2 separate regions of the Homo sapiens genome follow, and region 1 is linked to region 2. Evidence: fine-mapped expression QTL. A gene starts in region 2. The other region holds a variant in brackets. All regions are shown on one strand. Distances are from middle to middle. Region 1 overlaps FAM20B (FAM20B glycosaminoglycan xylosylkinase). Region 2 holds the start of FAM20B (FAM20B glycosaminoglycan xylosylkinase).

Region 1 (16,022 bases), 45 kb before region 2:
AGGCAGGAGAATGGCTTGAACCCAGGGGGCAGAGGTTGCAGTGAGCCAAGATGGTACCACTGCACTCCAGCCTGGGTGACAGAGCAGGGCTCCATCTCAAAAAAAAAAAAAAAAGAAAAAAGAGAAAAGAAAAAAAATTAACTCACTCAACAAATGTCGTTTGAGTCTGAATGGCAGTCTAATATAGTGATTACCATTTTCTATTTGTGCAACCATGGATGTTACTGAACCGTCCCATGCCTGTTTCCTCACCTATAAAAAGGGATAATAAAATAGTCCCCTCATAGGGCTGCTGTGAAGATTAAATGAGCTCATTCAATGAGCACATCATCAACACTCAATACGTGGCCAGTTTTATTTTTGTATCTACCCAGCCATGGAGGAGGCTCTGGGTGGTCTACACAGGAGGCAAGGATGGCTTTAGTTAATACTGGTGGTTTATAAGTGAATTTATGGTGAAAAAATTAATAGTAACAATAGTTTATTAAAACAATCCAAGTTTTAAGATGTTGTGGAAAGAATTATCTGTACTTGGAACTTTTATGTAGGGCTACCTGCTCATTTCTGAGATGTTCTGACTTGGATTTAGCATCCCATTGTAAATAAAGTAGGTTAGCTGGGAAGTTCTTCGACAACCAACTTGATTTCAAGACATTTTTATTATTTATTTATTTATTTATTTATTTATTTAGAGACGGAGTCTTGCTCTGTCGCCCAGGCTGGAGTGCAGTGGTGCAATCTCGGCTCACTGCAACCTCCGCCTCCCCGGTTCAAGCGATTCTTCCCCCTCAGCCTCCCAAGTAGCTGGGATTACAGGCGTTCACCACCACGCCCCCGCTTTTTTTTTTTTTTTGTATTTTTAGTAGAGACGGGGTTTCGCCATGTTGGCCAGGCTGGTCTCGAACTCCTGGCCTCAGGTGATCTGCCTGCCTGCCTTAGCCTCCCAAAGTGTTGGGATTACAGGCGTGAGCCACTGCGCCTGGCCGTTTTTTTCCAAAAAAAAAAAAAAAAGAGGTAAACACTTTTTCACCAAAGAGTCAGTCCCGTGTAGAAACAATAAATCCAAACACCAGTTTCTAGATACGTCTCTTGAGTATTTCAATAAATACTCCTTTCCGTCTCAGGCCTTGGAGGCTGTGCTCGTTTTAAAGTTCTGGAAGCAGTATCTCATGGATGACGGGGACATCTAGAGGCTGCTGGGAAAACTACAGACAACTATGATTCTTTAGCAAGCATTACGGTGCTACTCAAGGGCGGTTCCAGAACCCCACCACTGGCATCACCCAGGAGCTTGTTAGAAATGCAGAATCTCAGGCCCCAGACATACTGAATCAAAACCTGCACTTTAAGAAGGTCTTTCTGTGCAGGGAGCCATGGCTCATGCCTGTAATCCCAGCACTTTGGGAGGCTGAGGCAGGAGGGTGGCTTGAAGCCAGAGTTTCAGACCAGCCTGGGCAATAAGGCTAGACCCCTTGTCTCTACCAAAAATAAAAATAAAAAATAAGCTGCGTGTGGTGGTGCGCGCCTATAATCCTAGCTACTTGAGAGGCTGAGGGAGGAGGATCACTTGAGCTCAGGAGTTCGAGGCTGCCAATGAGCGATGATTGTGCCATTGTACTCCAGCCTGCGTCAAAGCAAGACTGTCAATCCAAAAAAAAAAAAAAAAGCCTAAGGCAAAATTGGCACACAACACCTTTATTGATGTCATCTGAGTATGACCTAGCTTTACAACAGACATCTTCCCAACCCCACTGAAGGCAATCAGAACCATCTGCCTTGGAAACACTGGGTCAAAAGCAAGTCTCGGCCTGGGACGGTGGCTCACGCCTGTAATCCCAGCACTTTGGGAGGCCAAGGCAGGTGGATCACTTGAGGTCAAGTGTTTGAGACCAATCAGCCCGGCCAATATGGAGAAACCCCGTCTCTACTAAAAATACAAAAATTAGCCGGGCGTGGTGGCATGCGCCTGTAGTCCTGGCTACTCGGGAGGCTGAGGCAGGCGAATTGCTTGAACCTGGGAAGCGGAGGTTGCAGTGAGCTAAGATCGCGCCATTGCACTCCAGCCTGGGCACTGCAGTGAGATTTGGTCTCAAAAACAAAACAAACGCAAGTCTCCATATTTAAATAACCCTGCATGAGAAACATTACAGGAATGTTTCCCAGCTCATCTATGTTCCTTTAACATCTACACAGCACTTGAGGTGGACTGAGAATGTCCTCAAGAGACAGGGCACACAAACATTTCCTAGAACAATGAGAAACCCCTGAAGCGATATTTCTGGTGACCCAGATACTGAAAATACAGGCCCAGAAGGCCCTGTATCCACTAAGCAAATAGTTCTGCATTTCCGGAGTCAGGGGTTCTATACACACCTCTCGTCAAGCCTGGATCAATCTCCACTTTTTCAATGTAGGTACTGCCTAACCCAATCCCTCCCAATCCCCACCTCCATGATCCTCTCCCGTTTCTTATTCTCACTGCAATTAATTTATATAATTCCTGAGGGACTTGGTGCCTCACAAGCAGTTTTTTTTTTTTTTTTTCTGCCAGGTCTAGACTGCAGGCTCTTTGAGGGAAAAGACAGTCACTATCATCTCAATGGTATACCACAGCTTGCAGCACAATGGCCCACAGATCTACTGATGACAGACCAAATATCTCACAAATTGTGATTTAATACCATTATTCCTTGGGGCTTATACTGCAACTTACCTTACAAAACCCTACCCATGGAAATCCAGTGGCTATGACCATTCCTATCTATTTTACAAAATGACGACTGCTAAAAATCAGTCTAATAAGCAAACATACTAGGTAAAATTACCCAGTAACAGAGCCCCGCCCTCCCTACTCCCAGCTACCTTTTTCAAACTCTAATACCAGTCGTTCTGATATGCTTGAGAAGCAAATGAATCCTGAACTCTAGCCTGGAAAAGAATTTGTATGTGGTGAGTCAGTGAGATACACAGACCAGGCTCTACTAGCCTCCCACATGTATTCATGTACAAATGACAAAAACTAGCACAAATATGCTGCAAATAAAATAGTTTTGTTTTGTTTTTTGAGACAGAGTTTCGCTCGTTGCCCAGGCTGGAGTGCAATGGCACGATCTCGGCTCATTGCAACCTCCGCCTGCTGGGTTCAAGCAATTTTCCTGCCTCAGCCTCCGAGTAGCCGGGATTACAGGCGCCTGCCACCACACCCAGCTATTTTTTTTTTTTCTTTTTTTGAGACTGAGTTTCACTCTTGTTGCCCAGGCTGGAGTGCAATGGCACAATCCCAGCTCTCCGCCTCCCGGGTTCAAGCGATTCTCCTGCCTCAGCCTCCCCAGAGTAGCTGGGATTACAGGCATGCACCAAGCTGGCTAATTTTGTATTTTTAGTAGAGAAGGGGTTTCACCATGTTGGCCAGGCTGGTCTCAAACTCCCGACCTCAGGTGACCCACGGGCCTTGGCCTCCCAAAGTGCCGGGATTACAGACATGAGCCATGGTGCCTGGCCCAATAAAAATCTTAAGAGCTTTGCTCAGTTACCTGGTTGAGGTTTATGATGCTGGATTCTATTTCAAAAGTTAAAAATCTAGGTGTCCTAAGAAGTACTACTAGGGCAACTGGCCTTCTCTTCCTGCCTTTTTTGTAGTGTGCTGACAAGTTCTTCAGGATTCATAATTCTTTACCTCTAAGGAAGCTGCAAAAATGGAGTTAACTATTAAATATACAAAAAGCACCTAACAATGATCCCATAGAAAATTTTGGTATAGTTACAATCTAGTATGAACCGTTTGAAGACTGGTGAGGAAATTTAAAGGTCTAATCCACCAGGTACTGTGAAACTATCCCTGTGGAAGTTTAAGTGGTCACAAAAGATGTAATCTTCTTCTGTCCCCTAACAGGAAGGGAACTGAAATAGGAACCACTGGAAATATCCTGAAGGGGGAAAGAAGAGGAAAAGATCAGATATCAATATTTATTAAAATCTTTATTCATTTTCTTTTTTCAGAATTGAAACCCATAGAACACATTAGAAATTTAGATCCATATCTGTCTTGTTTGGTATCTTACCAAGTACAATCTCTGTCTGTGCAACAGCTCTGAGAGGAAATCCTTGGCAGATCAAAAGAGAGGGTAGTGGCTCCCACACTTTCCATTTAAGCAAATAAATGAGCTTCTGAGTAGTTGTTCCCAGTTTCACCCAACATTTTGTGTTTATGAGAAACACCTTAGTTCCTAAAAACCTGTGGTAGTCCAGTACCTAGCCCCTACCTTGTCACCACCCAGACTTGAGGAATTGAAGGGAAAAAAACTGGCCTTCCCCTGTAGGATGAGTTTCCCAAGGCCAGATGTGCCTGGCTCACTAGTATGTCTGGCCTGTGCTGGCACACTAGAGTTGCTCAGTAGTTATTCGCTGATGAATGGTCTTTATGTTAATTAGGGTCCACTCTCAGAGACTGAGAACCTTTCACTAAGGTTCTTTCTGAATCCTTCAGAAAGTCAGTGTTCCCCTTTGTCAAAATAAATATGTTTTTCTTGCTAGAATACATATACGACTATATACATTACATATACTTTTACTCATGTTTCCTGAAGCTCAAACTCACAGGATGAGGCATATAAGATAGCTTACTGATGATGCTGTTTTACCATCATTGAGGTGTGGTCATTTACTGGTCAAAGAATACACGGGTGATCGAGAAGAAAGGCTGAAGAAATATGGCGGATGGGAAGGGAAGGGAAGGCAAAAGCATTTTTTTTTTTTAGAAAAAAAAGATCGATTTCTTTGGAAGATAATGCTGGCTTCAGATGACATTGAAAAATTGCCACGTATAGGACTCATCTTTCCCAAAATAATATGCAATTAATGTACCTGAATTCTTCCATTTCCTTCTTAAATTTCATTTGACATATTAACCCTGAGTGCAAACAGGGGGCAATGCCTTATTAATACATTCTTGAATAATACTCTGAGCAAATCAGATCCTATGAATTTGTTTTACACAGAAAATTATTTACATTTCCCCCAAACCCACAATGCAGCCTTACACTAAAGAACAGTTTTATAACAAAACCTTTATACTCAAATTTATCCATTCGAACTTTAGAATAAACATGTTTTAACAAGTTGGAGGAGGGCAGGAAATGGCCATGAGTTCTGATTTTCCTAGTTTTGTAGTATTAAAATGTCTCCACGTCTACCTTTGGATGTTTGGTAGGCATACCTAACTTACAGCTGATCCAAACCCTGCAACGACTTGATTGTAACAGCCTTAGATTCTAATAAATAAAGTAGGACAGTGTTACAAAACTTAAAAAAAAATTCACCTCCTTTTTTTTTTTTTAAGACAGAGTCTCGCTCTGTCTCCCAGGCTGGAGTGCAGCAGCACAATCTCAGCTCACTGCAACCTTCGCCTCCTGGATTCAAGTGATTCTCCTGCCTCAGCCTCCCGAGTAGCTGGGACTACAGGCGCATGCCACCGTGCCCTGTTAATTTTTGCATTTTTAGTAGAGACGGTCTCACCATGCTAGCCAGCCAGGCTGGTCTCGAACTCCTGGCCTCAGGTGATCTGCCTGCCTCAGCCTCCCAAATGCTGGGATGACAGGCATGAGCCACGGCACCCGGCCCCCACCTCTTCTTTCAAACAGTGTTTGAAATTTTAGGGCTTTCTGAATTTTAGAGCTGTAAGTTTATGGTTGGTTTTCTCCAAGATTTGCCTAAACATACTTTTCCAGCTTACTCCAATCCTGACTTACAACAAAAATTTATATTTTTAGTGCCATGTCATACCACTCTATTAGCTCAATTCTAACTTTATGGATTAGAGTTCTAAATTTTATAGATGAAAATTCTAAATTTATCATCAGAATGCCTTTTAAGATCACGAGTTTGAAAACAGATGGGAATAAAATGAAATGATATATTTTCTGCAAATGCTTTCAAGAAAGGATGAGACATTTTCTTTCCTGCCTGCTTTTTTCCTTAGCAGAATCTTCTGCCTTCAATGTTATGAAGTTCCCAGTTTCAGAAGACTTCTTATTCATTTCAGTGTGGCATACTAAAGGCGTCATGTATTTGAAAGACCACAAATCCATAACTTAGTTCAACTAACATTTACAGGGAGAGCAGAGATGACATCTCTTCCTATTGTCTCCTCCCAGCTGGCTCCTGGAAGCTTGTGGGTGAGCACTAACCAAGGTATTCTCATACTGAGCTGTGAATTTCCCTGGACACACAACACTGAGTAGCCTTAAAACTGAAATCAATGCCTCCTTTGGTTAACACGAATTCTGTGTTTTGTGCTAGTCTGTCTTCTTAAATTCAATACACGCTTTTTATAACTCAGCCCATTGTTCTGTTCATCTCAAAATGTATATAAAATGTACAAAAGTTTCCTAATTTCATGCCATTTAAAAATAGTTACAGGTTATTACTCAGTTATCTTTCAATGCAAGAAAACTGGGCATAAATTCTAAAGCTGTTTTTGAGAGTGGTTGCCTAAAACTAGTTTCCAATGGCTGGCATTAAATGTATTCAACCACACTGTTTATATATTCGCCTCTACTTGACAGAAATGCAAAGCTGGAACAGCACCTCAACAAGATGCAGGAGCAAAGCACACAGCTCTGAGTCCATAGATGAGTGGGCACATCAGGCCTGTCTTCCTTTGCCCCTGTGTTTTACTGCAACTACTTACATGTTGAGATCACTTTGCCAGAACACAAAACAAAAACTGTGTTTTACAAACCTGAAATTTGAGAGTGCTAAGAGGAGAAAGAAGCATAATACAACATCATGGGTTCAGAACTCCAAACAAGACTGAATGATAGAATTAGGATTTGACATAAATCAAAATCTTAAGGCTCTTCCTTTTAACCTCCTCAATTTCAAGGCTCAGAAGGCTTAAAATCTTGGCCGGCCACGGTGGCTCATGCCTGTAATCCCAGCACTTTGGAAGGCTGAGGCAGGTGGATCACCTGGGGTCAGGAGTCCAAGATCAACCTGGCCAACATGGTGAAACCCGAAACCCTGTCTCCACTAAAAATATAAAAATTAGCTGGGCACGATGGCGGGCGCCTGTAATCCCAGCTACTCTGGAGGCTGAGGCAAGAGAATCGCTTGAACCTGGGAGACGGAGGTTGCAGTAAGCCAAGATCGTGCCACTGCACTCCAGCCTGGGCAACAGAGTGAGACTTGGTCTCAAAAAAAAAAGAAAAAAGAAAAAAAGAAGAAGGCTTAAAATCTTTGTTTCCAATCTTCCATGGCCCCAAATCACAAGATAAGTCCAGCCACTTATCTGAGAGAGTAAGGTATACACTCTCACCTGTAGGAGTGTCCCTTTCTTATGAGAAAGGGACAAAAAGGTTGCCGATCTCTTGGGAACAGCAGCTTCAGTGACAAAAATGCCTTAAAGGCAGAGGTGGAAATTCATTTCAGAAGAGA[A/G]ACGAGGATGACAGAGACCACAGGCAACCTGTTATTCAAGGTATTATTTCAGTTTGCTTTGTTAATTTGGGAAGGACTGCTTTTGGCAAAAGGGGAAAAAATTAGTCTCCACAGAGAATCATGCTTAGATTGTAATAGTATTTTCTCTAGAGACAACTTTTTGGTTAATTGGGACACAACTATGAGAATGCAGAATTTACTTAGGTGCAAAGTCATGTTTGCTTTTTATACACCTTAAGATCCTAAATACAAGGGAACCTGTTTTTCAGTAGTTCAGTCATCTCCCTGATTCTGGTTCTACCATTGGGTCTCTCTCTCTTCTTCCCTCCTCTAAGATCATCAAAACAATACTACCCAATGGCTTAAAAGCCCAAACATTTTTCTGTTTTTGTCCTTCCCTCCAATTCTATCTTAAACATGTATCTCCTCTAACAGAGTGTGCTATTTTGGCTTGATGGAATGCAAGGTTTTATTTGCTGCCACTCTGTAGGACAGTAAGCATTCCAATGTAACTAGTTCTGGTAAAAAAAAAAAAGACAAAGAGATTGCAAAGTGTTTCCACAAAATCCACGGGCGTAGAGAAAGGACTGCAAGGTTCAACTCAAAACACATGCTCCAGAGCCAATCCCAGTATTCATCTATCCAAATGTCACACCTGTTTGTCCTTTGGCATGGGAATTAAGACTGACCAACTATGATGCCCAACCCTAGAATGAGCAATTGCCGAGGAGGTGAGAAGGCGATTCAGCAGGAATGTCTCCATGCTCTGAAACTTGTGGTCTTTGCTTTAGTTTCTACTACAGAAAATACCAAAGACATCCAAGGCCACTCTGTCCCGTCACCAGAACTTGCTGCTGGCCACTTCCAATCCATCTCATACCATTTGGAATTGATTGTGCTGTTTCTCTATCTTTGTAAAAAGAAGTTTCACTTATTTTGTGTCGAGAATTACAAGTGTGAGAGAGGCATCCTGTCTTCCACCAGTACTGTGTCCATCCCAAACTGGTCGGTGCACTGCTTCACGGTGGCCAGGACACTCAGGAGCCGCTGGTCCACGGCGTCCAGATGAGGATCAGAGAGCACTGGGGAGATGGGGTCATGGGCCATGGCAGATTTTAAGGCAGACTTTAGCACACCATTCTTTAGGTAGTTCAGTCTGTTCCAGGTGGACACCCGAATGCTGGGAGAAAAAGTTATAGAACAAGGTACATAAAACTTCTCATTATCAAACGGAGTTGAAAGCCTGCTAGGCAGACAAAAGTGAAAAAATAATTAGGTAAAATCCTTTAACTAAATAATTTTTGCTTTAGAATTACCCCTACATAATGAGTAAGCCACATTACTATGTTTTGATATTGTTTCTGTGTAACTAATCAGAGATATATACAGAGATTTACACACATGTTCACTGCAGTGCTGTTTATAACAGGAAAAATGTTGAACAATCTGAATGTCTAACGACTGGGAAATAGTTAAATTATGGTTCATCCATTGAAAGGAATACCATGCAGCTGTTAAAAACAATTTTGAAAATTTAGTGGAATGGGAAAATGCCTATGATATGATGCTGGGTGGGGGGAAGAGGTTGGAGGAAAAACCTGTTTCACTTCAAATCTGTAGGAAAACAAAATACACATACATGGATTGGAATGAAGTACACTACAGTGTTAACAAGAGGATCCTTAGACGTTAATCCTTAGACGTTAATGGGTACTATAAACTTCCTTCTTCCTCATGTGTTTCTGAAGTCTAAAATAATTTCTACTGGGAAAAAATTATTATTATTATTTTTTTTTTGAGACAGAGTCTTGCTCTGTCGCCCAGGCTGGAGTGCAGTGGTGTGATCTCGGCTCACTGCAAGCTCTGCCTCCCGGGTTCACGCCATTCTCCTGCCTCAGCCTCCTGAGTAGCTGGGACTACAGGCACCCGCCACCACGCCCGGCTAATTTTTTTGTATTTTTTAGTAGAGACGGGTTTTCACCGTGTTAGCCAGGATGGTCTTGATCTCCTGACCTCGTGATCCGCCCGCCTCGGCCTCCCAAAGTGCTGGGATTACAGGCGTGAGCCACTGCGCCTGGCGGAAAAAATTATTTTAAGGATACCTATCTGCCTTATTTCACCAACTGCTACCATTTGAATGTCTGTCCCCTACAAAATACATGTTGAAATTGCCATTGTAACAGTATCAAGGTAGAGTCTTTTAAGAGGTCGTTAGGCCATGAGTGCTCTGCCCTCATGGGTGGAACTAATGCTGTTATTAAAAGGCAAGTTCAAGGCCAGGAGCGGTGGCTCACATCTGTAATCCCAACACTTTGGGAGGCCGAGGTGGGCCCTCAGGTTGGGAGTTCAAGACCAGGCTGGCCAACATGGTAAAACCCCGTCTCTACTAAAAATACAAAAATTAGCTGGGCGTGGTGGCAGGTGCCTGTAATCCCAGCTACTTGGGAGGCTGAGGCACAAGAATCACTTGAACCCGGGAGGTGGAGGTTGCAGTGAGCCAAGATTGTGCCACTGCACTCCAGCCTGGGCAAAAGAGCAAGACTCCATCTCAAAAAAAAAAAAAAAAAAAAAAAAAAAGGCGAGTTCAGCCCCTTGTTGCCCTCTCTCTTTGCCCTTTTGCCTTCTGCCATGTGACATGATGACACAGCAATAAGTCCCTTGTCAGATGCTGGCACCTTGATATTTAACGTTCTAGCCTCCAGAACTGTGAACCAATAAATTTCTGTTCATTATAAATTACACAGTCTGGCCAGGTATGGTGGCTCATGCCTGTAATCCCAGCACTCTGGGAGGCCCAAGGGGTCAGATCACTTGAGGTCAGGAGTTCGAGACCAGCCTAGGCAACATGGTGAAACCCCATCTCTCCTAAAAATACAAAAATTACCCGGGCATGGTGGTACATGCCTGTAATCCCAGCTACTTGGGAGGCTGAGACATGAGAATCACTTGAACCTGGGAGGCGGAGGTTGCAGTGAGCCAAGATCGCGCCACTGCACTCCAGCCTGGGCAACAGAGCGAGACTCCATCTCAAAATAAGATAAAATAAAATAAAATAAATTACCCAGTCTGTGGTATCCTGTTACAGCAGCACAAAACGAACTAAGACACCAACTATAGCATATCTTTTATTTAAAATCTGAGAAGAAAAGTTCTTAGCTCTCTGTGGGTAAAGGAGGAATTACTGGGTATGCAGAAATGTCTGATTCTGTAAAAGGCAGCCTGTTGTGCAGCAATTTAAAAGGTAAGAAAGACTGCTGCATAAAGCATGCATGGAAGGGACAAACAGGCACAGACGGAGTACAGTTATTTTTATTCTTAAATATATTACAAATGCCCAGAGCATCAGAGCTTCCTCTGTGAGACTAAGTTATTATGTTACTTCCTCTCAGCTCCAAATTCACTCTTCAAAATATGCTCTGCTGGCCAGGCACGGTGGCTCATGCCTGTAATCCCAGCACTTTGGGAGGCCAAGGCGGACGGATCACCTGAGGTCAGGAGTTCGAGACCAGCCCCACCAACATGTTGAAACCCTATCTCTACTAAAAATACAAAAAATTAGCTGGGCGTGGTGGCAGGTGCCTGTAATCCCAGCTACTCAGAAGGCTGAGGCAGGAGAATCGCCTGAACCCGGGAGACAGCGGTTGCAGTGAGCCGAGATCGTGCCACTACACTCCAGCCTGGGCGACAGAGCGAGACTCCATCTCAAAAAACAAAACAAAACAAAAACAAAAACAAAATGTGCTCTGCTACGACGGATGGGATTCCTTTAAGCATCTTTCCCCTAAAGCATTCTCACTAGAGGGCGCAAAGGGGACACTGCAGGGTGAAGGGGCTCTCCAAATGCTTCTGTGGGTCAATGGTGGTGTTGGGGAGGCAGAGAGGTCATCCACTGAAGACCTGTCTAGCCACACTCCCAGAAGGTGTGGGTCCTTGGTGACCTGAAGCCTTAGCCTGGCCTGGGGATAACTCTCCCGAGGCCCTCTCAACATGGAAACCAGAGCTTTGAAGGCCATCTGCTCACCCTGGCCCCAATTCCCTCTGAAGGCCCACGTGTGTGCCTCACTTGCAGCACAGAAGGTTTCTACTGGATTCTCTCTCTCCTTCTGCATGTCATGACACCAGCTGTGGCTTGAATGTACACCCCACCTGCACTCTGGAGAGTTGCTTCTGGCTTGCTCAGCACCTGCAAACTAGCAAACTTCTCTGCTATCTGGTGGGCTGAGCTAAACCTTCTCCACTGAAGTCCAAACTCCAGTCATTGGGAGGGGATCCCCTTCCAAGTTTGTCCTTCCTTGGGTACTCTCCCTCAGCCCTTTTATAGTCACTCCTGTTATTGGAATTTAATAATTCTTTATATTGGGTCGGGCGCAGTGGCTCACGCCTGTAATGCCAGTAGTTTGGGAGGCCGAGGCAGGCAGATCACAAGGTCAGGAGTTCTAGACCAGCCTGGCCAATATGGTGAAACCCCGTCTCTACTAAAAATACAAAAATTAACCAGATGCAGTGAGGGGCGCCTGTAATCCCAACTACTTGGGAGGCTGACGCAGGAGAATCACTTGAACATGGGAGGTGGAGGCTGCAGTGAGCCGAGATCGCGCCACTGTACTCTAGCCTGGGTGACAGAGCAAGACTCCATCTCCAAAAAAAAAAAATTCTTTATATTAAACACCTCTGTTTATCACACTATGTCTTTGCTATCTCCTGATTGAACCAGACTGATAAAACTACTACCACAAAAACATCTTCAAAGACAAACACACAATTCTTGATTGTATATATCACTGCTTCCTATCATTAATAAAGACAATGAAGGACAGCCTGGGTAAACTGTTACTTTCTACAGAATTTTGTTGTCATTTAAAAAAAGAAAGAAGATTAAGAGACCAGTTGCTATGGCAGTCTTATGTGATATGATGTTGCTGGGAGCTGACCAGTATTAAATGGTGCTCTTGAACTTGTTTTTCTGTGTAGCCAAGCAAGGTGGATCCCAGCTAATTCTTGATGTGCGTGCTCTAAAATTACACCAGGATGGTCGGGCGCGGTGGCTCACGCCTGTAATCCTAGCACTTTGGGAGGCTGAGGCAGGCGGATCACTTGAAGTCAATAGTTTGACACCAGCCTGGCCAACATAGTGAAACCCGTCTCTACTGCAAATACAAAAATTAGCTGGGTTTGGTGGCAGGTGCCTGTAGTCCCAGCTACTCGGGAGGCTGAGGCACAAGAATTGCTTAAACCCGAAAGGCAGAGATTTCGGTGAGCTGAGATCGCACCACCACACTCCTACCTGGGTGACAGATGCAGACCCTGTCTCAAAAAAATAATAAAATAAAAAATAAAATAGTAAAATAAAATTATTTCAGGAATGATGAAAAGAAGCTTCTTAGAGCTTAGACTTTATCTCATTTTCTTGACTCATTTTTCAATTTCTCTGTTCTCTAATACAGAGTTTTTTTAAAAAAACCAATTATTATTTATTATTTATTTTTTTTGAGACAGAGTCTCACTCTGTCACCCAGAATGGAGTGCAATGGCACAATCTCGGCTCACTGCAACCTCTGCCTTCCAGGTTCAAGCAATTCTCCTGTCTCAACCTCCTAAGTAGCTGGAATACTGGTGCCTGCCACCATGCCCGGCTCATTTTTGTATTATTAATAGAGACGGGGTTTCGCCATGTTGGCCAGGCTGGTCTCGAACTCCTGACCTCAGGTGATCCACCCACCTTGGCCTCCCAAATTGCTGGGATTACAGGAGTGAGCCACTGTGCCTGGCCAAAATAAATTATTATTTATGGAAAAAGTTACTTTTGGTTTAGACAATTTCAAACTGAAATATGTAAACCCCAGGTGGTATGTGATGGGTGAGTGAGAGGAGTTAAAACCACAAGGTAACCAGGTGTAGTAACCAGGCATACAGATTTTACTCCTTTTTTTTTTTTTGGCAGTGGGGTGGGGAGTGTGGGTGATTATATTCTGCTATTAAACCAAACATGTATTACTGTATACATACAATCTTCTATTCATACAAAATTTGAGATGAATTCTGAGCTTTGGGTTATCTGCCTTCACCTTTCCCTGATATCCCATTTCAGGATGTCCAGAGGTTCTAGGTTGGAAAAGTATGAAAAGCACTGCTCAGGTATCAGAAAGTTTGAGGGCCAAGAAAATGGATGTACTGTTACCTGAGCCTGGAAAAGAAGGCAATGCAGGCACATGTATTTGCTGTGCATAACTTACATGCAACACTGATAGAGAGGGGCAAGAATGCTTCTTTCATCCAGCGAGGGGTTCCCAAAGCTGAAAATTAAATTAAAACTTAGTGAATTAGGTGGAAGTACTGTTCTCTTCTTAGCATCAAAGCAATAGCAAATTCTATATGAAACTCAAATGTGATCCTAGATAATTTCACGCTCCAGCAGCTCAAATCACTTAAATTGAAAACAAGCGGGGCATGACCAATTAGACACAGGATCCCTAACAGCCTGTACTAAAATATCTGACAACAAATATACTCATTTACAAGGGACATTTTCCTGCCAAGATATCACAAGGTGCTGGAGCATAACTATGGTAAACACAGTGCGGAGTTCACAGACCAAAGGGAGAACTTGAAGACCCCTAAGCCTGCAAAGGTTTTAAGGACCAGAGAGAAATAAAAGCCATTTATATTAGATTCCCACAAACAAGCAGATGACCATTACTTGTAAAAAGAAGTCACACTTATTCTACTCCCAAATTAGCAATATCCTATTCCCTACAAGTAAGTATAAGTACAGATTCAAATTGGAAAAACTGTTCACACAGGCTGAGGAAACTGATTCACAGCAGATGCAAAAATTACCTTAGCAGCAATTCAGAGTTAGAAAAGGAGAACTGATTCTGGAAAACTGTCAACCTTTCAATCTTTCCAGAGGCTCACCTTAATAGCTAGAGTCTGGTAGCCCTTAGTACAGTGTAGGTCCTCCAGTAATTCAAGGCAAAGGCAACTGCTATGGTCTGAATGTTTGTGTCCCCCTCAAATTCGTAATCCCTGGTACAACAGTCCAACAGTATTAAGAAGTAGGGCCTTTGGGAGATGATTAAGTTACGAGGGAAGAGCCCACATGAACGGGATTAGTGCCCTTATAAATGAGGCCAGAGGGAGCGTGTTTACCTCTTCTGCCATATGAGGACACATAGAAGGCACCATCTGAGAAACAGGCCCTCACCAGACACTGAATCTGCTGGCACCTTCATCTTAGAGTTCCCAGCCTCCAAAACTGTAAGCAATACATTTCTGATGCTTATGAATTACCCAGTCTAAGGGATTTTGTTATAGCGGCCCGAGTGGACAAAGCAACTATTTTGATATACACCAAATATCAAGTATCATGTGTATCACAGGATGAGTGCTATGTGCTTTGCTGTAATGGGGTAGAGGGAGAGGCAGTGTTTGCTGGTTTTTCATTTTCTGTGGCCATCACCATCTTTCACAAAGCATGAGGCGCCTGGTGTTCAGTATAAGATGGTGGCATCATTAGCAAATGCTGCCCAAGCACTCTTTGCTGAGGAGCCATGTCTTAGCTTATTTCCAACAACCAATGTTAACAGTAGTGACCTAGGGCCTGGAAAATTCTGTACTCCAAGGAAGCGTTCTATTTAGTAAATATTTATTAAATGCAACTAAAAGTGTGGCACTACACCTGTAATCCCAGCACTTTGAGAGGTCGAGGCAAGCAGAGCACTTGAGGTCAGGAGTTCAAGACCAGCCTGGCCAAAATGGCGAAACCCTGTCTCTACTAAAAATACAAAATTAGCGAGTGCCTGTAGTCCCAGCTACTCAGGAGGCTGAGGGTGGAGAATCGCTTGAACCCAGGAGACAGAAGTTGCAGTGAGCTGAGATTGTGCCACTGCACTCCAGCCTGGGCAACAGAGCAAAACTCCGTCTCAAAAAAACTTAAAAAAAAAAAGTGTGGCACTAAACCGGCCACCACAGAGAATGCAGAATATGAAATGGAAATACAATGTGCTCTCCAAATAGCTCAGGCCTAAAAAAATAAGGACATTCTATTTATTCAAAATGAATAAACATTTTTTATTCAAGATAAAAGTAACTTGTTGTTATATATAAAATCCACACTAGGCAACAGCTCTTCTTCCCATGACAGCAAAAGTATGGACCTAGACAAACACAAAAATAGCAAAACATCCTACCAAATAAATTAATTTTTTAATTGCAGGAACCTTTGGATAGAATAAATTTAACGACAAATTCCACACTCTATTACATCTGTATTTCTCAAGCTTCTAAACACCAAATATCATAGCCAAGAAAGAACGATGTAGGTAGTAACAAATGAATAACCCTGGTTTTCCAGTTGTCTGAGAAGAGGCTCATAGAGTCTTAGACTCCTTGGAAGAACCACTTTTCCATTTTTTGAAGTACTGAGATCCCTGAGAGTGGAGAGAAGGACAGGTACCAATAGCAAAGACTCCAAGTGGAAAAAAGAAGGATGTTGCCTATCAATTGCATTCTGGATATTCTCCAGGATGCTCTGGAAAATGCCCTTCTTTCATATACAGAAACCCCTCCCTGACAAGGACAGTCCTGCT
Region 2 (16,022 bases):
CATGTGATAAATCTCAATGTATGTGGCTGCCAAGGAACATGAGAACACCTGGCCTTAACGCTTACTACCTTACTAGAGGGTCCTACAAGCCACCAATGAGATTCCAAGCCTTATTAGAAGTGTCCCCTTGAATCACCCTCTGATTAAGTGACAAGCTCACAATACTACCTCTGAGGTCATAGAGAAGAAATAAATACCAACCTCTGCTCATAGCAACTAAAAGTGAAAGTTATGGTAAAAGTAAACATAAGTTTCACTTCTTGTGTTTCTAATTTAATGGTCAAATCAGGTTCTTATGACTTAAGTAGAATGTAACATGCCTTGTAAATGCAAAGCACCACAAAGGAAATGCTTAGTAAGAATGCTTCATGCAGAGGACTAACAACAAAAGAGATCTGAGGCAAAGGGGTAGGATTTCTTAACTGGTATAGAATTATATTTATGCACACAATCTCTTTGCCCTTGATCCTGAGTAGGAACTACAAGGATCCTTTAACAAAATACTTTGGTAATTATTGGTTTGACTAAAACTCTGAAGGTTTGGTGAGTATAGGAGGTAAGACTTGAATTTGAATTTTTTGTAGACTGTCTGCAAAGACAGACACTAACAATTTATCCTATCAAGAGGTGGAGTCAGGGCCAAACATGCTGGTTTACACCTGTAATCCTAACACTTTGGGAGGCTGAGGCAGAAGGACTGCCTGAGCCCAGGAATTCGAGACCAGCCTGGGTAACACAGTGAGACCCTGTCTCCATTATTAAAAAAAAAGAGAGAGAGAGAGAGAGAAAGAGGTGGAGTCTGTTTTTCCTCCCCTTGAATCTGGGCTGGCTTTGTAACTTGTTTTGACAATAGAATGTTGTGGAAATGACTGTGTGCCAGTTCTGGGCCCTGGTCTTAAGAGACCTGGCAGCTTCCACTTTCACGGGATCTAGCTACCATGTAAAGAAGCTCAAGCTAAGACTACCAAATGCCAAGTGATCTATATGGAGAGAGGTCCAGCCAACCCTTGGCTATCCTGGTCACCCCAGGTGAAGTGCCAGACATGAAGATGACACTTTCAAGGACATTCCAGTCCCAGTTGTGGTCTGGCAGAATGTAGTCACTGTTGTGACCCCAGCCTATACCATTTGAGCAGGAACACGTGAGACCAGATGACCTATATAATTATAAGAAATAACAGGCTGGGCGCAGTGGCTCACACCTGTAATCCCAGCACTTTGGGAGGTGAGATGGGCGGATCACCCAAGGTAGGGAGTTTGAGACCAGCCTGGCCAACATGGTGAAACCCCATCTCTACTAAAATACAAAAAATTAGCTGGGCATGGTGGCACATGCCTGTAGTCCCAGCTACTTGAGAGGCTGAGGCAGGAGAATCGCTTGAACCCAGGAGGCGGAGGTTGCAGTGAGCCGACATCACGCCACTACACTCCAGCCTGGTGACAGAGCAAGACTGTCTCAAAAGAAAAAAAGAAAAAGAAAAAGAAAGAAAGAAATAACAAATCATTGTCTTAACCCACTATTATTTTGAGGTAGTTTGTAAAACCCAACATTCTCACATCTGTTCTGCTCCTATCAACTCCTTTTGGGGATAGTAAAAATACCAGGGGAGAAGACATAGGGAAATAAATTACGTGACTAAAAACAATTATCTCAGGGAGGGAGTAATCACTAAATTAACCATTAAGTGCAAATAAAAATTGGTTTGATAAATTGTTAGGTCATATTTGTAAATTATTATTAATGGCTTCTAGGAGCAATACACTCATTATAAAAGTTACATGTCATTTATATTTTTCTGTTTTCATTGTATATATTTAGAAAGATACATAATTAACAAAGTCTCTTAAAGGTACCACAAGAAGAAATAGATTCTCAACTGGATCATTTACTAAAATCCACTTGCATACTTCAGAGCCCTACTTAGACTTATGCAGAGCAATCAAGGCTAACCTCACACATTCACACACTGACACATGTCCGGTTTATAAAGCCTAACTTTTGTACTTCAGCCAAAACATAAATAGCAAAAATCACATCTTTTAGTGCAAAAAAAGTTAGACACACACACGCTTTTACCGTGGGCTGTCTGGTATACTGCCCTTTTGATTTTTCACTAGCAGTGACAGTAGGGCACTGTGCATATTATTATTAACTGTTATGAGTTTACACCCCGTTCCCTAGAAATAAATGTCTCTACTGATGGTTAGTGGCAGTGATAAGTAAAATTAAGAGCATTCAGAAGTCTTTTAGTATTGTGTGACAGTCAAGATGTCCAGAAAGTCAAAACCTCCAATATTAAACAGCATTACATGTTTATTATCTCAGTAAATGCTGAGTACCCTGGGAAAACCAGCCCACTCCTGCTTTGCTGCCTGCCACAACAGCATGCTATTCTTCCTTTCATCTTCACATGAGGGTCTTCAACTAAAAATAAAAACTAATACTAAGTAATAGCATTAATCAGTATCTATAGATATTTTTTCTTCTTTTCTGTGCTAATTATCCACTTAAGAAATAGCTTCTTAATTCACCTTCTTATTTTAAATATAAGCTTTCTGTAGCAGAGGGGTTAAAAGCATGTCCTCTGGATTCAGAATGCCTAGGCCTGGATGCTTCCTTTACCACCTAATGTGGGTCTTGGGAAAGATATTTAACTTCTGACCTCTCTGGGTCTCAGTTTCTGCATATAAAAAAATGAAACAAGAATACTATTACCTAACTCACAGGGTTGTTAAAAATGAATGAGCCAGCTACTCGGGAGGCTGAGGCTGCAGTGAATCAAGATCATGCCACTGCATTCCAGCCTGGGTGACAGAGCAAGATCCTGTCTCAAAAAAAAAAAAAAAAAAAAAAAAAAGAATGAGACCTCTACATGTGTTGTGCTAAGATTAGTGCCTGGATGACCCACAGTAATCACTTGCTAGTCATTATCACCATATCAAAAACCCAGATGACCTCCAGAGAGGAGAAAAATGACAAAGAAAACCCTCATTGGAATCAATATACCATAATGTTGTCTTCTCAGTTACATAGTGAGGGGCCAAATCCACACATTGCATTACTAAGAGTTTAGTAGTAATTAGTAGTCTTGTATTTCTGAGCCAAATTCTTGCCTAAATTTGAGAGGTAGATAAGACTAGGCAAATAGATATCTTCAGAGTGAGTGTCATGCAAAGCAGAAGACTGGGAGGCTGTCACTAATTTGGCCAACCTGTTTCCCTTCTCTACAAAGTTCAATTCTACCACACTCAATGTAACTGAAACAGATGGGAAGCATGAACTTATCCCACTTCACAAAAAAAGGCTAAAATAGAATGCCTTTCACAACTGTTTTCAGTTTGGAAAATTAGTTCTGTGTTTTAAAGATGACAGCTTTTCATGTGCTAAAGCCCTTAAGATAAGCCTTAAGAGTAACTTAAGAGTACAGGTGTAGAAAATCTAATTCTTACATAATCCAAATTGGTCCAAGTGTCAGGTTTTCCTTACTGTTTTCACTTCCATTTAAACATTTATTTACATCTGTAAACTCAGAATCACTTATATGAAATTCTCTAACAAGTTCCCTCTGAAGGAAGGCAACTAAAACCATTACCAGGCATTAATGAAGCATTAAGGTAGTCTTTCTTGCTGGATGTGAAAGTAAAAATGAAATAGGCAATAACTGAATAATTTCAATAAGTGAACTGAAAAAAAATCAATCTCTGCAACCTGTCCCATTTAAACCTTGATTTAGGGCAACCCTCTTCCTTGAAAAATGAAAAAGAAAAAAACTTTAGCTCATACTGCTAGCGAGTTCTGTTCTAAAAAACCAACACACGCAGTAATCTTGACACTACGTGGAAATGAGTAACAATTTGCATTTTCCTTTAAATAAGCCAGGTATAATGACACTTCCCAAGTTCCAGGTATTTCACAGCACAACTGTCAGTACAGAACCACCATTTAAGGCTAGATTATAGAAGGTAATTCCTGTATAGTGTTGAAATACGGCATTACAAATATTATAACATTTTCCTTCAGCTTTTCATATGCTTTCCATCTTTAGTGTTCAATTCACTACAGTTCTTGGAAAACCACATAAACTTTATACAACAATAGACCTCGCATTTTTAGCCTTATGTTCTATGGTACGTCAAGCTGACAGCCCACACAGGAGATCACTCTCAGAAGCAGGAGAACCTCAAACAGATCTGTGCTGAAATTATGGCTAGGTGGCTCCAGGCATGATCCCTCTGTTATACTATGAACTCACACACACACAAACACACACACACACATTTTTTTTTTTTTTTGGCACATCTGTCTCTTCTAATATATTGTGTTTTTTGAGGATGGGATAGATTTTACTCACGCTTTGTACTTCCAAGTAACTTAGCACTGTGCAGGGCCTGTAAGAGGCATCTGATAAGTGTTTGTGGAATAAAAGGAGAGAAGGGCAAAGGAGAAAGACCTTTAGGGTTATAAGAATTTCTTCTAAACTGGCAACTCTCTGGTTTAAAGACTGCCTCTTTCAGAGACAGGGGGAAATAAGTCCTACAATGAATTCAAGTATACAGTATATAAAAGATGCAGAAATAGCGAATATGTATACCAATTATATACACTCAATTTAAAGTTGCCACCTTCTGTATATCCTGCTTCCACCTTTCAAGGCCACTGCTATTGCCAACCTGGTTCCTAGTATCGGCTGGGATTAAGAGTAAAGACAATTTGGAAATGCTAAAAGGAAGAAAGGAGGTTGTCTAACACACTGCCCAAGGATGATACAAGACAGGGCTGAAATCAGATCTTCAAGTATTATTGGCAGTGCTTTCTGAAACAAGAACCCACACGAGTAAGTACTTCCATATTATTTTGTTTTTTTTTTTACAGAAAACTACAGGAACATAAATGCACCTATACAGAGCACACGTTCACTATCTACACCAACGATAAGAAACAAACAAACAAAAACGTCCCTGGGCAACAAAAATAAGTGGTTACAAAGTTCATACCCTAAAACTTGGAGAAGAGCAGGTAGAACATAACTAAGCCAATTTAGCTGTTTTACATTCAATGTCAGGAAGCTCCTACTCCACAGATAAGAAGCTGCAAATTTAAAAGAGGGCAGCAAGGATACTAACAGCAGCAAAAGAGCAGCTTTCCACCACTGAAAGAAGACAAAGACTGACTACTGAATCGACTCAAGTAGATTCAATAATTCAAAAAGCACAGTGGACAACAAACTACATTTTTCGATCATCTCATAGCCTCACTCAACTACTGCCAGTATGCTAGTAATAATAACCAAAGCATATATTGTAAAAATTTTTCCACAAAAGGTATAGCTAAAATAAAATTTTCACATATAATACCTTACTCCCCAACATTAGGTAAATGAGGCATTGCTATGTATATAAAGCAGAAAGTTAACATTTGAGAGCATGGAATGATAGACTTCACTGCCTCCCTCTGTACTTGGTTCTGTCCTCTTTACACATTCATAATTTCATATTCCTTGACCTGCCTTTATAACGTGCCCAAGTTAGCACCCTCTTCTCTAAAGGGGTTATCTTGCCAGAAAGTACAGACCTTAAACACACACCAAAGCTCAAGGTCTCTTCTGCATCAGCTTACATTTTTCTCTTATCTCACACTGGGATGACAGACGCACCCATCTGTCATGTAGATTCTTTACATCCCAAGCTAGGCATTTCTTCTTTTGTTTTTGGTAAGAAAGACCAAATCAGAAGTGAGATCTTTGCATTATTTTCTCTTCTAGGCAGCTCGAGCAGTCATGCTGACATTGTAAGTTAGTCAGAAGCTGGTTTCAATAGCAAAGTAAGCTTCTGTTCTGCAGCCCAGGCCTATGTTAAAGAATTCATTAGTACTTGGGGTTACAGAGACAGCTGAAGGAAAACAGGAAGATATATGTAGGTGTAGAAGAAGGAACTGCTGGAGAAGTACTCTTAAAAAGGGATAACTCCCCTCTTCCACCGTCAAAATAAGGGACAAGGGCAGTCAGGTCAATGCTATTGACATGGCCATTGCCAAGAGCTCTAAGTTCTTCTATTAATGCAAAAACACTGGCTATCAATCCAACTGCCCAATTAGCCTAGCCAGAACAGACTGTAGGAGCAAGGTTGTGAAGCTGCACTTGACTGGAACCTGCACAGGCTACTGCCAGGCTCCAGGTGGTTTAGAACACCATATAATCACAGAAGCAAATAACACACCTCTACAGAATATTTTGAACAGTAATCCGAAACACATTTTCTACGCTTTTTTTTTCTTTTGACAAAAAGAGGAACTAAATAATTTAGTATATACATTAGAATATTTCCCCTTCCCTCATACTGTTTTCCATTTATTCATTCAACTGACGAATATTTATTGTGCACCTTCTACATACAGGCACTGTCAGGTGCAGAGAGAAAAATACACAGATACACAGATTACTGTAACAATTACAACAAACTGTAGGGCCTCATTGTAACTGTGTTCCCCATCCCAATCCACAAAACCACCTGGCACTTAGTCCCAGAAGGACTAAGAGTCAGATTCAGAAGACAGTCTCCTTCTGTTGTTGTTGTTGTTTGTTTGTTTGTTTTTTGAGACGGAGTCTCACTGTCAGCAGTCTGGAGTGCAGTGGTGCAATCTCAGCTCACTGCAACCTCTGCCTCCTGGGTTCAAGCGATTCTCCTGCCTCAGCCTCCTGAGTAGCTGGGACTACAGGCGTGCACCACCATGCACAGCTAATTTTTGTATTTTTAGTAGAGACGGGGTTTCACCATGTTGGCCAGGATGGTCTCAATCTCTTGACCTCGTGATCCGCCTGCCTCGGCCTCCCAAAGTGCTGGGATTACAGGCATAAGCCACCGCGCCCGACCAACTGTCTTTTTATGTATTCTTACAGAATACAAAGAACGCCCTCCTGCTTCTGTTATGAGATTGTGGCAATCACCAAAAGACAACCTCTGTGGTTAGCTATTTTAAAAAGTTATCAATTCAACAGCTGAAGTATCTGGCTTTAGGGTTTTACACTAATGAAATGATTTTAGGGTTTTACACCAATGAAATGATAGACACACAAAGTGTGGGAAGCTGAAGTCTGCCCTAAAACTGAAGGAACAGAAAGTTTCATTTAGGAATTTAAAATTCAGAAGAGATAAGAAGCAGAAACTTTAAGGCTGTGTGAAAGGGCTGGAATCTACAAATGGAAATCAAGGGAATGAACTAAAAGTCAAGGAATTATCAATTTAACATAAAATACTTCCATGATATAAAAGATTATAAAAATAAAGATGATAGAAGCAGTGATGTGTTTTTTCTCTAATCTTAAGAACCAAAAAGAAAAGCAGTGTATGTGTTTTCTAGTTTCCATTCATTCACCAAAACATAGCTACTGTCCTACCAGTTCTAGAGAAACGAATAGAGCATACCAATGTCACATTTTCACCACACAGAAAAGAAACGCTGTGAACTCCAAGATGTCTTGATCATCTTTTACCTGTATCCATATTTATCACTGCACTTTATCATGAGTGAGGCTGAGAGTCTGAATTATACTTGTGTGTGCCTTTGTATTCTCCTTTGATAAGTAATTTCAAATGGGAAAGGGACTCCTGCTGACTGATTCCATTGTACGGTTCGAGAGGCCAAAGTCCAACATCTTTGCAAACTTTAGAAAAGTTATTAATAGAATACATTGATTTTAAATCTCCCTGAGATTGGCTATGAGTCTGGGCAAATAATTTAGCATCTTTACCATTTGTACCTCAGTTTCTCAGACAGTCGTGATAACGAATCATATTTGAGGAAGTGCTCTAAGCTTAGCTCAAAGATCCTGCATAAACTCAAGGAATGTTTGTAATACATAAGAACACTGAGATCTCTAACCAGATTTTTAGAAATCAACGCCAGTGAAATTTTTGCAAGAATTTACAACGCAAAAAACATAGGCGTGGCTAATAAATGGCAATAGTAATTTGTACCAGATTATAGATTTATAAAGTCCTACAGTTTAAAGGCTAAAGGCTAAAAAAAACCCCACATTCCTACTTCCCTTCCAAGTGAGAAATCAAACCTCCAGAGGGAAGCTGGCTGGGTGGGGAAGATGCTGATATCTGGCACTAGACCCAAGTCGCAATAGCAAGCAACTCTCATTTTCCCAAATTAGAAACTCCTTATCCATCCCAATGATGGTATGGTCTTTAAAAGGACTAATAATTCCATTAAGACTAACCAAGCCCTGTTACCCCTACTTTCCCTCCAATCCATCCTTCTACCCCTTCTCTTCTTATCCGGAGACTGGCAGGTTAACAGAAGTCAGATTAGAATGAATCTCTTATCAGAACCCACAATCAAGGACGCAGCTCGACAACTATTCACATTCATCATTAAGGGAAACGTATCGGTCCGCTCTTAATCGCGGGGCCGTCACACCCGGAAATGAAATCTCAAGCGCAGCCCACTGAGGGCTAACACAGCATTCGTTAAGTTGTGCCCTTCTGCGAGCGCCCGGCGCAGGACCCCAGGAGACCGCGGGCCCCGGGCACGGTTGCCCCGCCTTCCGCCTCCGGCCTGCAGGTCACTCGCGCTTCCCGGCCACGAGGCGGGCCCAGCAAAGACCCCGCGAGGGCGCGCTCCCTGGGCTGCCTCAACGGGCGCTCCGGGGAACACAAGAGAGGCACCGGGGCCAATCGCCTCTGGGGACCGCGCAAGGGGACGAGAGACGGTCACTAGAAGGACCTCTGGCAGCCTGAGGCGGCCCCAGGTGGGCCCGCGCCTCAGGTGGGCCAGGGACGTGGCGGCCGAGGCCGCGTCCCTTCAGCCGCGACCGCACACAGGGACACGCGGCCCGAGCGGGTCTCCCAGGAAGCCTCGGGCCCTCGCCCGGGACCCGCCCGCAGCCACTCGGGGACGGCTCAGGGCACCCGGTGCCCGGCCCCTCAGGGAGGCGCCCCGCCCCCAGGCGGCCCCAGCCCGGCGCGCGCTACGTACCGTGCCCCGCCCGCGTGCCGGTCCGCATTTTCCCGCCCGCCGCGCCGGGGGCGGGGGTCGCGCGCCCTCCCCCGCCCCCGCGCCACTCACCTGTCGGGCCCTAGGCTCGCTCCATGGCCGCCCGCGCGGTGCGGTGCGGCGCGGCCCCGGCCGCCCCCGCCGCCTCCGGGGAGGGGCAGCCCCACGCCGCGCTCACCGCCCCCAGCCGCCGCCGCCGCCACAGCGGCTCCGGCCCACCCCCGGCCCGGCCATTCCCAGGCCACCTCTCGCCGCGCAGAGCGGCAGTCCCACACCCACCCCCCCGCCTCCGAGGCCCCCGGCTGTTGGTACCGTCCTAGCGTAGCGCCTGCCCGACGGCCAATCCCAGCGCTCGCTCGGCGCGGCCCCGCCCCCGCCCAGTAGGCGGCCCCTACCGGACCCGCTCCGGACTGCCCCCCTTAACCTCTTCCATACCGGGCCCGTCCGCTTAACTCCCTCGGCGCCGGCGCCGGTCTCCTGCCGGCCGCGCCGCCCTGCCCGCTTACATAAACTGGCCTCTCACTTCTCACTTCCTTCGCTCTTTTTTCTTTTTCTGTATTTGTCCTCCATCCCCCACCCCGTCTTCTCTTTTTCTTTCCTGCTTTTCTTAGGTAGGTAGGCAGCCAAGCAGCAGGACTGGAGAGTTGCGGTCCCCTAGGTCGAGTTCTGTTTGTGAGAAGCATTTTCCCTCCTCCTGTTGCCTTTTTAATTTGCCTTGACTTCTGCTCGGAACTTCTGCCTATCTAAATGTATCCCCCGCTTCTTTTGCCCAGAAAAAGGCTAGCCTTTCCACACTGAGTGCAAATGGCTCTTCATTCGGACCAGAGCGGAGCGTCCTGCTACATACTTTCAGGAGCATCTCACAAAATTATGATTCATTTACTGTAATATTAGTTGTTTTACATCTGTTTTTTGCTAAGGACCGTAAGCCCCATGAGGGCAGGTCAGTCGCTCCTGGGTCGCCAATGCCCGACCGTAGTGCACCCAGTGGGCGCGGATAAATCGTGTGAATGAAAGATTCTGCCTTCCCTTTGTTTGCTTTCAGCTGACTTATACAGAGCCGCCACTGTGTCCATCCATTTATTCACCATATACTAAAGCGCAAACTTAGTGTGCCTGACCCTGAAATATAATGCAGGTTACTCCATGGAATAAGATGCGTGATGGGGAAAGACTGAGCTGACACTTTTTCTTCAGGCCACATAGTTCATTTAATCAGTAAGGCGTACTGAACAGAATTCTTTCTTACTGGCTGTATGATACTGGATGTGCCAGTTAACTTTGCTGAGCATCAGTTTCCTTAACTGGAAAATGGGAGTTAATAACTTCACAGGGTTGTTGTAAGGATTAAGTTAGGAAATGTATGGGGAAAGTACTCTAAGATTATTGTGTATGATTAGGTGTTATTCGTCTGTATATTTGCTGAGCATTTACTATCAGGAGATCCTAGAGAAATAATTGGGCTTGACACTTGCTCCGGACAATGTAGTTAGGGAGGCAGCATTAATCACTGCAGGAGACGTACAGTCAAATGCAGAAGGCATTGTATTAGCTTTTTGCTGCGTGTAGTTGAAAAGGTTTGGAGGTTTGGAGGTCGTTTTCTGGCCGGAGAATACATAATTCTTGGGAAAATGAGCTGGAAGATAATGAGAATCTACCTTATTTCTCTGCACAGGAAGATCAGTCTGCCTGCAGTTAGCTAATCTCCCTGAACCTTGCTCACTACATCAGGAGACCATAAAGCAAAAGGGTAAATCAACAGTTCCTTTAAGACACTTTATCCAAAAGGATTCTCCTTTCTTGCCTGTAACTCTGACAAGGACAGTGAGGGTGAACGCTCCAACTGTCACTGTTCAGGAAAAGGCCAGCTTATCCTGCAGCCTCAGCTTCCTGGGCGGATGATCCCTTCTGTCTTTAAGGATTTTCAGGTGAGGGCAGGGGGCAGTCATTGCCTCTCCAAGCAACCCACTTCAGTGCTTAATTTCGCATCCATCTATCCATCCCACATACTGCAGGACAGACACACTTCCTCCTTTTCTGTCCTCAGAGAAGGAGAGCTATGGGTTCAGGGCCTCTCTGTGAAAGGCTTTCAGACGACAAAATTGTTCTGCCCCCCAGTTTTCCCTTCTCCATGTTGCATTACCCAGGCCCTTGTTGAGTGTATGCATAGCACCAGCACCGTGCCTGACACTCCATGATGTCAGTTTCTGCCCCCTCCGCCTGTACGGGATTATTTTCCAACCAATCAACAGTCAATATATTCTAAGTATTGTGAGGGATGCAATCATTTAAGAAGGGCGTTTACATGACTAGCACACAGGAAGCAGCTGCAAGGAATAGGGACACTTAAATTATGCAGCACAGACTCTGTGATCACTGAAAGAATCACAGTCCAGGAAAACAGTGTGGGCTGGTATTGAGGTGAGCAAAATACAGGTAGGAGAAGAGAGGAACAATATGAACCAAAGTTAGGCAGTGCTCTGTGAACTTACAGCCGCCATCTTCAGCAGATCCTGCGTGACAGGAGAATTGTTCATTTGTTTGTTTATTCATTCATTCACTGATGCATACATTCATTCATTTAATGAATGTCTACCAAGTGCCAGGCACTGAGCTACCAGACCATGCAGAGATGAAGAAAGCCTGGTTCCCATTCTTGAGAAGCTGGCAGGAACCCCAATTAAGGAGGTCTGAGCACTTTGTCAAGACTCTTGTGATGCTCCTTTTACCACTCATACGATGTATGGTTCTACATGTCGTTGTCTAATCTCCTCTTTGCCCTTCTTCCTTGTTCCCAAACTGCAAGGATTTTTAAAGACATACACTATTTCATCTTTATTCCCACTTGTAGAGTGCCTCATACGAAGTACCTTCTCCACATTGATGTGTTGAAGCTCACTGAGTTAAAACCAGAGCAGGAATTTGGCTGTCCCCCTCCAGCCAAGGGTGGTAGGCATCCTTAGCAGAAGGATGGATATTAGCCCCAATGTGGAACCCCAATCTTGGAATTAGCCCCAGTGTGGAACCCACCAGAGGCTTGTCCGTGGCCTGCGGAATTCAATAGGGACACCTGTGCTTGGCATTTACTGCCATAGTCACCTTTTCAGGACCATTTTCTGCTAATTCCTTATCCTCCAACCTAAGGGGCTCACTTGCTGTCCTTTCCCTGCCCTCATGGTTGTGATCACATTGATTCTTCCTCCAGGAAATCCACCTCACTCCCACCTGTAAAAATGTTATACAGCTCTCAGTGCTGCTTGTTCATGAAGCCTTTCATAGCCTTCCCAACAACTGCACATGCTTTCCTTGGCTTCTGAGACCCAGCACTTTATTTGTAACTGTCTTGCGGTGGGGTGTATTGAAGTCTTTGGGGATCTGTCTGACCCCGTTCCCCGGGTTGTATTGACATCTGCGTCTTCTGTAGCACTAACACTGCACATGGCCCATGGTAGCCATGCAATGCTTGAAAGGAAGGTTTGAGAACATGTACTACAGAGCAGGGAATTGAGCCCCAGAGACTTATTTCTTGGTTCCTTCATCATTGTAAGCATTTTCCTTAAACTGTTTCAGAATTTCCAAGTCTCTGCCAATTTGTCAAGCCCTAGGACTCCAATAACAGTCCAGCAATCCCAAGTTAGAAGGAGGATATTGTCTCAAGGTGCTTTTGCATACACGAAGGCAAAATATATATGCATACACGCGCGCGCGCACACACACACACAGAGTTTCTTTTAACCTAGGCAACACAGCCACCATGATGGATCCCTCTGAAACTAATTAAATTAATTCTACATCAAGCAAGTCGAGAGGAGCCCTAGGAAAGCTCACGCTGTTCCAAGGTGCCAGGAGCCTGGGGAGAGGGTGACGGGAAAGGCTAGCGAGTAAAGGAGCACACATATCTCTCTGTTTCCTTCCAGGAGCATGTGCCCTGCCTCAGCTGCTTCCCAGGCAGGTTTGTTCTCTGCATTGGGCTGTCTGTGGACAGCTGCTTCTGCATTTCTTTCCTAACAGGGAAAACTCCTTTCTTTCATTTTGCCACCAGATCTGCAGAGCTACTCCCAGCCCGCCTCTTGCTTATAGCAACGGACTGCCCACTTACCCCATCACGTGGCACCCCTGTCAATGCCATCTGAGCAAACAACTCACGTCCCAGGGACAGCATCATAAGCTACATACATACACAGCACACCCAGCTTCTCTGCTGAGACATTCGGGCTGTGGATTCTGAAAGTGGTGGGAATATTTCGGTTATTTTTTCACTCTAGCAATATTATTTTTAAGAAAAGCTTTATTGAGATATACATACCACAAAACTCACTTGCTTAAAATATACTCAGTGCCTTTTAGTATATTTACAGAGTTGAGCAACCACTAACATAATCTAATTTTAGAACATTTTCATCACCCCCAAAAGTAATACGGGATGTTTTCTTTTTTATTCTGAAAATATATTTACCTATTTATTTTGTTCTTTAAATCTGCACAGTAAAAGCAAAAAGAAAAATACATTAATGGATATGTTAGATTTCTAGAGTTAGTAAGAAATGCAGAGGAGTTATGGCTCTCAAAGCTGTGTATCACTTAACTGTCATGTATGGCTATAGAAATTTGTTTAACTACCCCAAAGTGTACACTTTGTTGTGGCATATACGCTTCAGTAAATGTCCAGGGCCACATCTTTGACATTTTCCAGTTTGTTATGAATTTCTCTAATGCCACATATGGCTTTTCAAGGGATTGGGTGGAGAGAGAATTGCAAATTCCAGATTGCTAATTCCCACAAGGTAATACTTTTGTAATATGCCTAGGATGGTACCACAGGCATATTGGTATTTAACACACATTTTTTTTTTGTTGTGATGGAAGCTGTTTTTTATTGACTCAATTCAATGCATGAAGTAATTGCAGTCACATGGAAGTTCTGGGTTCCTCAGACTTCTCTTTGAGACCCTGCTTGGAAAGCCAGGAAGCTTCTACCATCGATGGATAATGTGGTAAGGAGTTCAGCAGAAGGCTCTTTGAGCCTTTCTCATGGCTGGCCGAGGGATGTGCTAGAGGACAATTATCAGTCTGGCTGTAGGGGAGCTTTTTTTTCTTTTTGAGACAAAGTCTCCCTCTGTCGCCCAGGCTGGAGTGCAGAGGTGCAATCTCAGCTCACTGCAAACTCTGCCTCCTGAGTTCAAGCGATTCTCCTGCCTCAGCCTCCCGAGTAGCTGTGACTACAGGCGTGCGCCACCATGCCTGGCTGATTTTTGTATTTTTAGTAGAGATGGGGTTTTGCCACAGTGGCCAGGCTGTCCTCAAACTCCTGACTTCAAGCGATCCTCCTGCCTTGGCCTCCCAAAGTGCTGGGATTACAGGCTTGAGCCATTGTGCCCAGCCCAGAGGAGCTTTTTAAATAGCTCTATGCCTGCCCCCATCTGCAAAAATTTGAATTTAATAGTCTTGTGGTGAGGTCCTAGCAAGGGTATTTTTTAAAACCTCCAGTTTATTCTAATTTGCAACCAAGGCTGAGAACCATTGTCCTACTAGCGACTAAGCCAGGGCCATGTTAATAGGTTGAATCATGTGAAATTGTCATCTTTATAGGGCAAAGTTGAACATGGACAATTTTATATAGTTCAATCTAATATACAGGCAATTGGGTTTTATTTTCAAGGGAAGATAGCTTGGTCTTTTGGTAACCTTCTGTAGGAAGCCAGCCATCTCTCCAAGCGCTCATCCTGCTGTGAGCAAGGATGAGAAAGATGTGACAAGGAAGAAAGCCAGTGCCCTGTTGGTCCAGATGCTGCCCCTTGGTGGACCAGACCCCCTACATCTTTCCTTCCAGTGGGGCTTAGACATACAGAAGCCTGTGGCTGTCAGGCATGAAGGGAAATGAGCAAAGCAGGCCAAAGGTGAGGCAACCAGAAGGGTTGAGGGAACATGACATACCAGAGAGCCTGGTCCCTCCTTCAAAGGCATTTACATTTAAGTGTGTGTGTGTGTGTGTGTGTGTGTGTGTGTGTGTGTGTGTATACACACACATACACAGAGCAGGCCAAATCATAGACATCTATGGGTTGAAATCTAGTCTTCAGTCCTACAGTTTGTGATCCTTTCCTGGAAGGTAGATGTTTGTGGCACAGGGAGGTGACCCGAACAGAGGAAGACAAGGTACTCAACACAGTGGGACTATAAGCCCAGGGAGAAAGAACCAGTACCTCACTGATGGCTGCTGTACCCCTCTGGGGCCCATGGGTGAAATAAGGAGGCATGGCATGTAGGCAGGGAGATCCCTCAGGCAAGGGAGTACAGGGGACCACTGAAGGGAGTGTGCTAGGATTTTCAGAGATGTTAGCAACGCTTTGAAAGAAATGGTAATACCAGGCTGGTATTTTCACCATGGCAATGCACAAGAAAGGGTCTCGGCCAGGCGCAGTGGCCCACACCTGTAATCTCGGCACTTTGGGAGGCTGAGGTGGGCAAATCACCTGAGGTCGGGAGTTTGAGACCAGCCTGACCAACATGGAGAAACCCCATCTCTACTAAAAATCCAAAATTAGCTGGGCATGGTGGCACATGCCTGTAATCCCAGGTACTCGGGAGGCTGAGGCAGGAGAATCACTTGAACCCAGGAGTGAGAGGTTGCGGTGAGCCAAGATCGTGCCATTGCACTCCAGCCTGGGCAACAAGAGCAAAACTCCATCTCAAAAAAAAAAAAGAAACAAACAAACAAAAAAAAAAACCAGAAAGAAAGAAAGGGTCTCACTTAATGTGACCACCAGTCATCCAACCAAAATCATCAGTTGTCTTAGACTCATTTTTCTCACCCCCACCTCTGATTAGCACCAAGTTCTGCCAACTGTGGCTGCTAGAGAGTTCTCAATCCATCTCCTTCCTTCCAGCCACCCAACCACTGCTCATGTTCAGGCACCATTTTCTCCCCACTGGATTATGGCAACAGTTAATTTTATGTGTCAACTTGACTGGGCCATGGGATGCCCAGATAAATATTATTTCTAGATATATCTGTTAGGGT

What was found. PIP is the estimated chance that this variant, and not a neighbour inherited with it, causes the effect.
Region 1: its variant is fine-mapped to the expression of FAM20B in T cells (TOPMed, PIP 0.98). The same link has a PIP of 0.9 or more in skeletal muscle.

What each region holds. Positions count from the first base shown.
Region 1 is chr1:179,064,505-179,080,526 of GRCh38, reverse strand. It overlaps FAM20B (FAM20B glycosaminoglycan xylosylkinase), which reads right to left. Exons shown (of 8, transcript NM_014864.4): 7 at 13,668-13,727; 8 at 3,960-8,614. The coding sequence ends at 8,383. Among named protein-coding and RNA genes, the nearest start is that of TOR3A, 9.6 kb to the left of the region's middle. The variant A/G (reference allele first, on the strand shown) is at 7,435.
Region 2 is chr1:179,019,150-179,035,171 of GRCh38, reverse strand. It overlaps FAM20B (FAM20B glycosaminoglycan xylosylkinase), which reads right to left and starts at 9,278. Exons shown (of 8, transcript NM_014864.4): 1 at 9,074-9,278. RefSeq lists silencers at 5,504-5,798, 8,492-9,231, 9,272-9,461 and an enhancer at 5,567-6,442.